2 separate regions of the Homo sapiens genome follow, and region 2 is linked to region 1. Evidence: fine-mapped expression QTL. Tissue or cell type: whole blood. Region 1 holds a variant in brackets; the other region holds the start of a gene. All regions are shown on one strand. Distances are between the middles of the regions.

Region 1 (5,379 bases):
TATCACAAGCCTGGCTGGACAGAAAGCAGTTTGTAACACTGCTGCTTATAAAGGGTTCATGAGAAGACCACAATTTTAAAACCCAAGTGCTGTCCTTTGGGAGACTGACCTTTGAAAGGAAAAAAGGCCCAGCCAAGAACCTGCCCATAATGGAGATGGCAATTGGAGCGGGGGTATGGGGATCATGCTTTCACTGGTAGCACCACAACATAGAAACCTTTTTTGCCTGTCAAGCACCAAAGATCTGACAAATGAAACTTTCATCTTAGTGTTTTTTGAGGCTTGTTGACCATGACTCACATTTTGGATCCTAAAACAATACAGACATGTGCACACACACACACACACACACACAGCTGAAACCGAAACAAAACAATGTCCTTATTAAGAGTGATGTATTCATGCCGGGCACAGTGGCTCATGCCTGTAATCCCAGCACTTTGGGAGGCCGAGGCAGGTGGATCACCTGATTTCAGGAGTTCGAGATCAGCCTGGCCAACATGGCAAAACCCCATCTCTACTAAAAATACAAAAAATTAGCCGGATGTGGTGGCGGGCACCTGTAATCCCAGCTACTCATGAGGCTGAGGCATGAGAATTGGTTGAACCTAGGAGGCAGAGATTGCAGTGAGCCAACATTGCGCCACTGCGCTCCAGCCTGGGGGATAGACCAAGACTCTGTTTCCAAAAAAAAAAAAAAAATGATGCATTCACAATAGACTTTATACTACTTTAGTCTTTATCTACACCTAATACAATGTAGTCTAATTTTTAAATGCTGGTAACAACTCATTGATGAGTTGCAACCCAGAGTTTAAAGAATATGGTTCTAGATTGTCAAGAACAGTGGTCTCAAATGGTGGTCCCTGGACCAGTATCATCTGGGAACTTGTTAGATATGCATATTAATGGGGCTGGGTTTGGTGGTGTGTGCCAGTAGTCCCATCTAATTAGGAGGCAGAGGTGAAAGAATCACTTGAGCCCAGGAATTTGAGACTGGCCTAGGCAAAATAACAAGACCCTATCTTGAAAAAAAAGAAAAAGAAATGCACATTCTCAGCCCCACACCAGTCTTCTGAATTCGAATCTCTGGAGGTGGCACCTGGCAATCTGTGTTTTAACAAGCTCTGCAAGTAATTCTGATACATACGAGAGTTTGAAATTTACTAATCTATAAACTACAAAAAACAGATTGAGGCTGCTGTTTTCATTGTTTAAGGCTGCACTTTCCCAAAAGGTGGCCACTAGCCACATGTGGCTATTTAAATGTAAATTAATTAAAATGGAATAAAATTAAAAACTCAGTTCCTCAGCTGCACTAGACACACTTCAGGTGTTCATGTGATTCATCTGGCAGGCTAAATAGAAAATGTACACCTGTGGCAAGGGGAAACACTAACAACTGCAGGAAGGATACTGGGAAAGCCCCTACATGATCTGAAATGCTGAAATCAATTTAAGGTATTGATTAAGGCAAAGTGGGGAAATTAGAAAGGAGCATTTGCCTTACAGAGGCTCTGAATAGCATAAAAGATTGACAGAATATGATAACAGAGCCCATAGAATAAGGAAAGCTGTATACCAAATCTCTGATTGGTCTTTACATTTAACTCAATTCAGTATCTTTCAAAAAAGAAAACCATTCATTCCCAATACATAAACAAGCTTTCTTTCAAAAGCTAATGTAAAATTCAGTGTTTATGAACTTAGAAAAATTCCATTTACATATATAGTTTTATACACACACACACACAAAATGTTCTTATAAAAACAAGTTCTAGCTGGGCGCGGTGGCTCATGCCTGTAATCCCAGCACTTGGGGAGGCTGAGGCAGGAGAATCACTTGAGGTAAGAAGTTCAAGACGAACCTGGGCAACATGGTGAAACCCTGTCTCTACTAAAACTACAAAAATTAGCCGGGTGTGGTGGCGGGCGCCTGTAATCCCAGCTACTTGGGAGGCTGAGGCAGGAGAATC[G/A]CTTGAACCTGGGAGGCAGAGGTTGCAGTGAGCCGAAATAGTGCCACTGCACTCTAGCCTGAGTGACAGAGCAAGACTCTGACTCAAAAAATAAATAAATAGGCCAAGTGCAGTAGCTCACACCTATAATCCCAGCACTTTGGGAGGCTGAGGTGGGCAGATCAACTGAGGTTGGGAGTTCGAGACCAGCCTGACCAACATGGCGAAACCCCATCTCTACTAAAAATACAAAGTTAGCTGGGTGTGGTGACACATGCCTATAATCCCAGCTACTTGGGAGGTTGAGGCAGGAGAATCGCTTGTACCTGGAAGGCAGAGGTTGCGGTGAGTGAAGATCACGCCATTGCACTCCAGCCTGGGCAACAAAAGTGAAACTCTGTCTCAAAAAATAAACAAACAAATAAATAAATAAATCTATTTTTTAAAAACCAAGTGCTTGGCCAGGCATGGTGCCTCACACCTGTAATCCCAGCACTTTGGGAGGCCGAGGGTGGGGCGGACCAAGAGGGCAGGAGTTCGAGACCAGCCTGGCCAGCACAGTGAAACCCCATCTCTACTAAAAATACAAAAATTAGCCAGTCATGGTGGCACGCGCATGTAGTCCCAGCTACTCAGAAGGCTGAGGGAGGAGAAACACTTGAACCCAGGAGGCGGAGGTTGTGGTGAACCACAACTGCGCCACTGCACTCCAGCCTAGGCAACAAAGCGAGACTCCATCTCAAAAAAAAAAAAAAAACCAAAACCAAGTTCTTACTATATTGTGTTTATATTCCTGAGCTGACGAACCAACAGAAGCCTGTTTGAAATCTTTTGTTTTTTAGAGATAGGGTCTCACTCTGTCACCCAGGCTGGAGTGGAATGGTGTGATCCTAGCTTACTGCAACCTCAAACTCCTGGCTCAAGGGATCCTCCAGCCTCAGCCTCCTGAGTAGCTGGCACTATAGGCACATGCCACCATGCCCAGCTAATTTATTTATTTATTGTAGTGACAGGGTCTTGCTATGTTGTTCGGGCTGGTCTTGAACTCTTGGCCTCAAGCACCCTCCCACCTTGGCCTCCCAAAGTGCTCGGATATAGGTGTAAGCCACCACATCCAGCCTGAAATCCTTTAGCTTTACAAAGAAAAATGGCAGAAATAAAATGGCGGGACTCGTCTTTTCTAGTTCGGGGATGAAGTTCTGGTAAGCAACACTTCTTTGAATAAGAGTGACTATTTTAATCCCCACAACCATCATATGACAAGGAAAAACCTTTTTCATGCTAAATTGTTAAAAGAAAGGAGGAGGCAAAGCTGGAAAGGAGGATGGTAGGCTCTCCTGCTCACCTGTGCACATGCCTCTCAGGGCCTCTCCCCCAGCAAGTGTCCAGGGATCTGGGCCCCATGCTGCTTCTCCTTGCTCCAGCTGGAATATCAGATCTGGTTTGGGGAATGGAAATGCTGCTACAGGAGAAAGAAAAGGAACATGAAGCTGAGGAGAATCAACACTGACCTCCCTCAGACTACACTCTGCTTTGCCAGATGAAAATAGAAGAGGATGGCCCAGGAGACTAAGTGAAGTCAGGGAGGAGTGAATCTGCAGAATCTAAGGAAGGGCTTGAAGCTTACTCTGGCCTCTAAGAGGACAGAATGCTCCCAGAGTCACTGGGGGGTGTGTACACGAGGGCCCTAGGGGACTCACACATAGGCAATAGGGCCAAGATCAGCTCCAGGGAACTGGAAGATGGAAGGAATGAAGACAGTGCACCAGGAACCTTCTCAGTTCTCTCTGTATCCAGAGGAAAGCCCCCTGCAGTTGGGTCTCCATTAGGAACCAGGGAAGAGAAAAGTCCTGTTAAACACCAAAGTGAACCGAGCTCTTTCTCCATCCAGCTACCCCTGGCACTGGGGATTAGGGAGCTCAGCCCATAGGGCATCAATTCTGATGGTATTAAAGAGATCCTAGTTCTGCTAAGGAGGAATCTAGGAGCTCCCAAGGGCAGAAGCTGAGTTTCAGAGAGGAAGGAGGACTTACACAAGGAAGTCACATTTGCATAATTCTCCAGCATCACCTCCCTGTATAGGGCCCTCTGCGTAGGGTGCAGGCTGGCCCATTCATTCTGGGTGAAGTACACAGCCACATCCTCAAAGGTTACTGGCTCCTGAAACAACAGGTTCCTGCCCAAGCCCTGCACAAGAACAGAGGGAGAGGCCTGAATTCCAGGAAAGGGATAAATTTACTGGAATCCATGGCACTGAGCCCCATGGAAGGTTTGTACTGGCAAGGAGAGCCACACAGGACCCCAGCAGGGGCAGCCCCGAGCCAGCATTCCAACTTTCCATGTGCATACCTCTGGGGCCCTAATATTATCATCCTAAGTACACAGCCCAGCACCTGTTGTTCTCTGCCTGGTGATCATGTCAACCCATGTCTGGTTCCACAGGCCAGGTATATTTTTCTGGCATGCTTTCTAAATCGACCACAGCAGGTAACCGTCTTTCACCCTGCCTCCATCCATCCTGAAGCACGTATCAGGGCCCTCCACCCAGCTTCTTTCTGGTCTTCCTCCTCTACATCTTCTGCTACAGACAGAGGAGTGATTTCATGAGGATAAAGTTCCTTTCATCCTGGATATTTCTCCCCTTTCTATCATCTTGCCTTATCAGAAGCTATTAATAGTTCTCCCTTGAAGGTGATGTGCAGTGTTACTTCTTTGTCTCCTAACACACTTCACTCCAGGACAGGATGGCAATCTCCCATCCTTCTGCAGAAATCTGCCCACTGATCACCTAAGCTCTGTCTGACCTGCCAATGCTGTCCTCTTCATTATGTGTCTCTCTCTTTCTGCTTCCCACTAAAACCACCTCCAGCTTCTCAGGGAAGAAGGACACCATCACAGGTTGTTTAAAGCTTTGTCCTGTGTCAGTTACTTTTAAATCAATTTGCTCAATCATTATAGCACATCTGTGAAATAAGAATTATTATTTCCATTTTCAGATGATGGGAATGAGCAATATTAAGCACTTTGAAATAGACTAAAAGGAGTCCTCTTTGAGTATTTATTACAAGGTTGTATAAGGAAGCAAAAAGTTCAAAATGAACTGACCACTTTTATATAAATTAGTCCCATTAAAACATCTATCTCTGACTCACACTGTAGTCTTTCTCAATTCATCATGTCAACAACCTTCTCTTTGTACTTAAGTCTCTTCTGAGTGAAGAAATCTAACATAGAAGTACTAGAAGATTTGGGCTGGGCACAGTGGCTCATGCCTGTAATCCCAGCACTTTGGGAGGCCGAGGCGGGCAGATCGCGAGGTCAGGAGATCAAGACCATCCTGGCTAACATGCTGAAACCTCATCTCTACTAAAAATACACAAAAAATTAGCCGGGCGTGGTGGCAGGCACCTGTAGTCCCAGCTAC
Region 2 (5,379 bases), 23 kb before region 1:
AGAAGAGCCTAGGCAACCTTGTCTCTAGGAAAAAGAAGAGAGCCAAGCACAGTGGTCTGTACCTGTAGTCTCAACTTAGTCTCAACTCCTTGGGAGGATCACTTAGGCCTGGGAGGTGGAGGCTGCAGTGAGCTGTGATTGCACCACTGCACTCAGCCTGGGAGACAGAGTAAGATTGTCTCTAAGGAAAAAAGAAAAAAAAAAAAGCTGCAGTGGCTAAATTCATATAAGACAATGTAGATAGGTAGACAGTCCATATTCTGGGCCATAAAAGAAAGCTCAATAAAATCAAAATGATTCAAGTCATACAAAGTATGTTTTCTGACTGTAATGCAATTAAATTTGATATCACAGAAAGACTCCTGGAAAATCCCCAAATATTTGTAAAGTCAGTAACACACTTCCATAAGAGAATGTACAAAGTATTTTGAACTGAATGAAAATGAAAACACCATGTACTAGAATTTGCGGGATAATGCTAAAGCGGTACTTGGGAGGAAATGTATAGCACTAAATGCCTATTTTACAAAACAAAAAAAAAAGAAAGATCTCAAATCTGTGACTTCAGCTTCCCCCTTAAAACTAAAAAAAGAATAGCAAATTTAACACAAAATAAATATAAAAAAGACATTAAAGATCAAAGTGAAAACTAATGACATAAAACAGAAAAGTAATGAAACCAGAAGCTAGTTCTTAAAGAAAAATTAATAAAATTCATAAACCTCTAGCCAGTGACCAGAAAAAAAGAGAGAATACACAAATCATTAATATTAGTAATAAAAGAAGTGACATCACTGCAGGTAATAAAAGATAAGCACATATTATGAACAACTTTATGTGAATAATTTCTACAACTTAGATAAAATGGATAAGTTCCTTGAAAGGCACAAGTTACCAAAACTCATTTAAGCTGGGCGTAGTGATGCATGCCTGTAGTCCCAGGTACCTGGGAGGCTGAGCGGGGAGGATTGCTTGAGCCCAATTTGAGGTCAGCCTGGGCAACATAGAGAAAACCGTTGTCAAAAAATAAAAATAAATAAATAAAAAGAGATAACCAGAGTAGCCCCTGTATCTACCAAAGGACTCAAAACTGTACTTAAAAACCTTATCAGAAAGAAAACCCCATGCCTAGATAGCTTCACTGTTGAATTCTACCAAACATTTAAGGAAGAAATGCAGTCAACTCTACATAAATTCTTCCAAAATATTAAAGAGGAGGGAATATTTCTCATTCTATGGAACAAAGACATCACAAGAAAAGAAAACTGCAAATCAATACCTCATAAACATAGATACAGAAATTCTAAATAAAATTTTAACAAATTAAATTCAATATATAGTACTAATAAAATAATAATACACCATGACGAAGTCGGTTTTATCCCACCGCAGAGTTGGTTTAATATTTGAAAGAAAAATCATGTAATTCACCACATTAACAAAGAGAGGCTGGGCACGGTGGCTCACGCCTGTAATCCCAGCACTTTGGGAAGCCAAGGTGGGGGAATCACGAGGTCAAGGGATCGAGACCATCCTGGCCAACATGGTGAAACCTGGTCTCTACTAAAAATACAAAAATTAGCTGGGTGTGGTGGCGCGTGCTTGTAGTCCCAGCTACTCGGGAGGCTGAGGCAGGAGAATCGCTTGAACCCCAGAGGTGGAGGGTGCAGTGAACCAGGATCGCGCCACTGCACTCCAGCCTGTCGATAGAGCAAGACTCCATCTCAAAAAAAAAAAAAAAAAAAAACCATATGGTCATCTAAATAGACACAGAAAAAGCAATTGTCAAAATCCAACATCCATTCCTATAAAAACTCTCACCAAAGTAGTACTAGAAGAGAATGCCTGATAAAGGACATTTACAAAACAAAACAAAACAAAAAAGCAAGAAACCTACAGTGAACATCAGTCTTCAGTGTGAAAGATTGAATGCTTTCACTTTAAAAGCATAAATAAGACAAAGATATCTGCTCTCACCACTTCTGTTCAATATTGAAATAATGCTTCTAGCCAGTGCAGTAAGGCAAGACAAAATAAAATAAAAGGCATCCAGACTGGAAAGAAAGGAGTAAAACTATCTTTACTCATAGATGACCTATGTAGAAAATACAATGGAATCTACAAAACAGTTACTAGAATTGCTATACTGAAGAAGTAAGTACTTCTCCAAGCCTGCGGACTAGGGTGAAAGGGGTCTTTATTGGATGTAATAATGCAGATTTCCACATTTCATAATTTTTATTTTTAAGCTGGCTTCAAATGCCAAATCCCAACCAATCCCCCCACACTCACTAGTTTTCTAGTCTTAATTTGGGCATTCTCACCTCTCCATCCCTCTCATAGTGACAGATGCACAATGGAAGCCACTGGCCTACACAACTCAAGATCTGAATGCAGAGGTGACACCTGCTCTCTCTTGACATCTAAAGGGTGGGAGGGAGGGAGAGGATGCTCACTCACCTGGCGCCAAGCGGTCTGGAACATGGCTGGCGTCCCAGCTTCACACACTGCCTCAGGGTTCGGAGAAGTGAAACTGAAGAGAAAATAAAGAAGCACCGGTGAGATTGATGCTGCCTCGCACCCCGCAAATGCCCTCTGTGCTACTTGGGCCCCTCTCCTTTCCGCCAACTCCTCACCCCAAAAAGCAAAGGGGTTGCAAAACCAGGCAGAACAAGCCCCAGGAAAACCAATCAGTTACCCGGACCGCGAACCTCTTCAGCTCGGACCGCGAATCCCGCGCGGCGCAGGCGCAGATAAAGCGTGGAAATTCCACCTGCCGCCGACACCGGGGAAAGCTTGAGACCCTCCGCCGGAAGTGCGTTTTCCATGCCCCTCCTCTCTAGGAACCTGGGAAGTTGCCAGTCTCTGTGGTTTCCTACCCCCGCCGTCAGCGCCAGTGTCCCTACTGCCTGAGACAACACGGGCCCGAGCGGGCGGCCCCAGGCAGGGGTCCTGCAGCGCCCACACCTGGTAGCTCCTTCGGGGCATGACGTCTGGCCAGCTCAGGCCACAGAATGGTTACTATCCTGGGTATTATTCGTGGTTATCTGGCATTTGCCACTCTGGGTGTCCTTCCAGATAATGAAGGGACCATCGCGCCCTTCACATGCGCCAAAACTGTCTGGATTGTGTGGGTGCGCTGCAGTGGGAAAAGTGGGTGTGGGGAAAGGCGAACCCATTACTCAGAAGGCCGAATGTGTATGGACTACGTAGGTCCAGAAACCCAGCTGCACCACTTGCTAGTTGTGTGACCTGCAGCAAGTTTCTTTGCCCCGGTTTCCTTGTCTATTAAATGGGTATTATGATGGTGGTACCAACCTCTTGAGGCTGTTCAGGGTTAATTCATTAAATTAGTTAATTGATAGGTAAATTATTTACAGTTGTGCCTGGCACATAGTATGTACTCGTGAGTTTGTATTGTTTTGTTTTCCAATTGTGTTTTTTGAAGACACAAAATAGGTGCTGCTGGGACTCCAATATGTGGCGTGCTTTAGGGAAATAGATTTTTTTAAGGACAATTTTCGAAGTTTAGCGAAAGAGCTATTAACATTTGGCTTAGAGCCCTTTCCTGCCCTGTACTGGGATGTGTGTCCCGGCCCAGCCTGGAAACAGATTTTAGTTATTCCTTCCACAGGAATTAGATTTATCCACCACTTTCAAAACAAGTCCTGCCATGGAGAGTATATTATGTATCTACTGCTGGATAATAAACTACTCTAATGCTTTGTGGCTAAAAACAATAAACATTGTTATCTTTTGACAGTTTCTGTGGACCCAGAATTCAAGAGCAGCTTGGCTGGGTGGTACTGGCTGAGGGTCTCTGCTGAGGTTGCAGTCAGGTGTCATGTGGGGCTGAAGTCATCTGAAGCTTGACTGAGTTTGGAGGATCCACCTCCAAGGTGGTTTACTCACATGGCTGTCAAGTGGGTGCTGGTTGTTGGCAGGAAGCGTCAGTTCCTTCCCATGTGAGGGTTTTCACAACATGGCATGTAGCTTTCTCCCAAAGTGAGCAATCCAAGAGGCCAAGGCCAAAGCTTTTATGACCTAGTTTTGGAAATCATGCATCATGATTTCCTCAATACATTCTCCTCAGATTAGTCATGATTCAGTGTGGGAAGAGATACACAAGGTTTGAATGCCAGGATATGAGAACCATTGGGAGCCATTGTGGGGCCACCTAGCACAGAGATTTTAACTGTCACAGAAACAGTTCATTTTATAAAATCTATAGTATTTTCACTTTAAAGTTTATGCACAGCACTTGTTTTAAATAATTAGATTTCCAGAAACAATGGCATGACAAGGACATACATGTGCATACTGTCCCTTCGCTAAACCTATTAAAATGAACATTTACCATGAGTGGGTGCACATAAACGTACATACATATACACCACAAATTCTAAACAGTATTAGCCAGTGGAAAAAAACATGATAAATTGGACTTAATCAAAGTTAAATCTTCTGCTTTTCAGAAGATACTTTTAGAGAATGAAAAGACAAGCCACAGACTGGGAGAAAATACCAAAAATATTTGATAAAAGACTTGTTTCCAAAATATATAAAGGACTCTCAAAACTCACTCATAAGAAAATAAACCAATTTTTAAAAATAGGCAAAAGATTTGAACAGATACTTCACCAAAGAAGATATATGGAAAGCAATTAAATATTTGAAAAGATGCTCAACATTGTTAGTCATTAGAGAAATGCAAATTAAAACCGCAGTGAAACAGTATTACACACTTACTAGAAAAGCTAAAAGTAGAGACAACATCAAGTGTAGGCAAAGATGTATCAGAAGTGGAACCCATACAATACTGATGGAAATGTACAATGGCACAGTCTCTTTGGAAAAACTTTGCAGATTCTTTAAAAATTAAATATACACCTACCTTATTATCTAGCCATTTCACTCTTGTTATTTACCCAAGAGAAATGAAAACATATGTCCTTACATTACAAAGACTTGCATACAAATTTTCATAACAGCTTAATTTATAATAGCCAAAAACTGGAAACAATTCAAATGGCCATCATTTGAGTTAAGTTGTGGCATATCCATACAGTGGAATACTACTCAGTAATAACAAGGAATGAACTACTGATATATATGCAACAACATGGGTGAATCTCAAAATAATTCTGTGTTGTGAAAGACATCACACCAAAAAAAATAATAACTTTAAAAAGAGTACATACTGTGTGATAGCATTTATATAAAATTCTAGAAAAGGAAAACTATAGTAAAAGAAAACAGATTGGTGGTTTCTTGGGGCTGGAGGCAGGAGAGGAGCAGGCTGGAATGGAGAGATTATAAAAGGGCATAAGGAAACTTTTTGGGGTATGATTATGTTTGTTATCTTGATTGTGTTATTTT

What was found. PIP is the estimated chance that this variant, and not a neighbour inherited with it, causes the effect.
Region 2: ZNF620 starts here. The variant in region 1 is the best candidate, but not a certain one, in a credible set for the expression of ZNF620 in whole blood (TOPMed, PIP 0.51).

The regions. Positions count from the first base shown.
Region 1 is chr3:40,480,626-40,486,004 of GRCh38, reverse strand. It overlaps ZNF619 (zinc finger protein 619), which reads right to left. Exons shown (of 5, transcript NM_001145093.4): 3 at 3,989-4,142; 4 at 3,301-3,417. Among named protein-coding and RNA genes, the nearest start is that of ZNF619, 6.2 kb to the right of the region's middle. The variant G/A (reference allele first, on the strand shown) is at 1,977.
Region 2 is chr3:40,503,458-40,508,836 of GRCh38, reverse strand. It overlaps ZNF620 (zinc finger protein 620), which reads right to left and starts at 2,798. Exons shown (of 5, transcript NM_175888.4): 1 at 2,699-2,798; 2 at 2,461-2,533. The coding sequence starts at 2,484.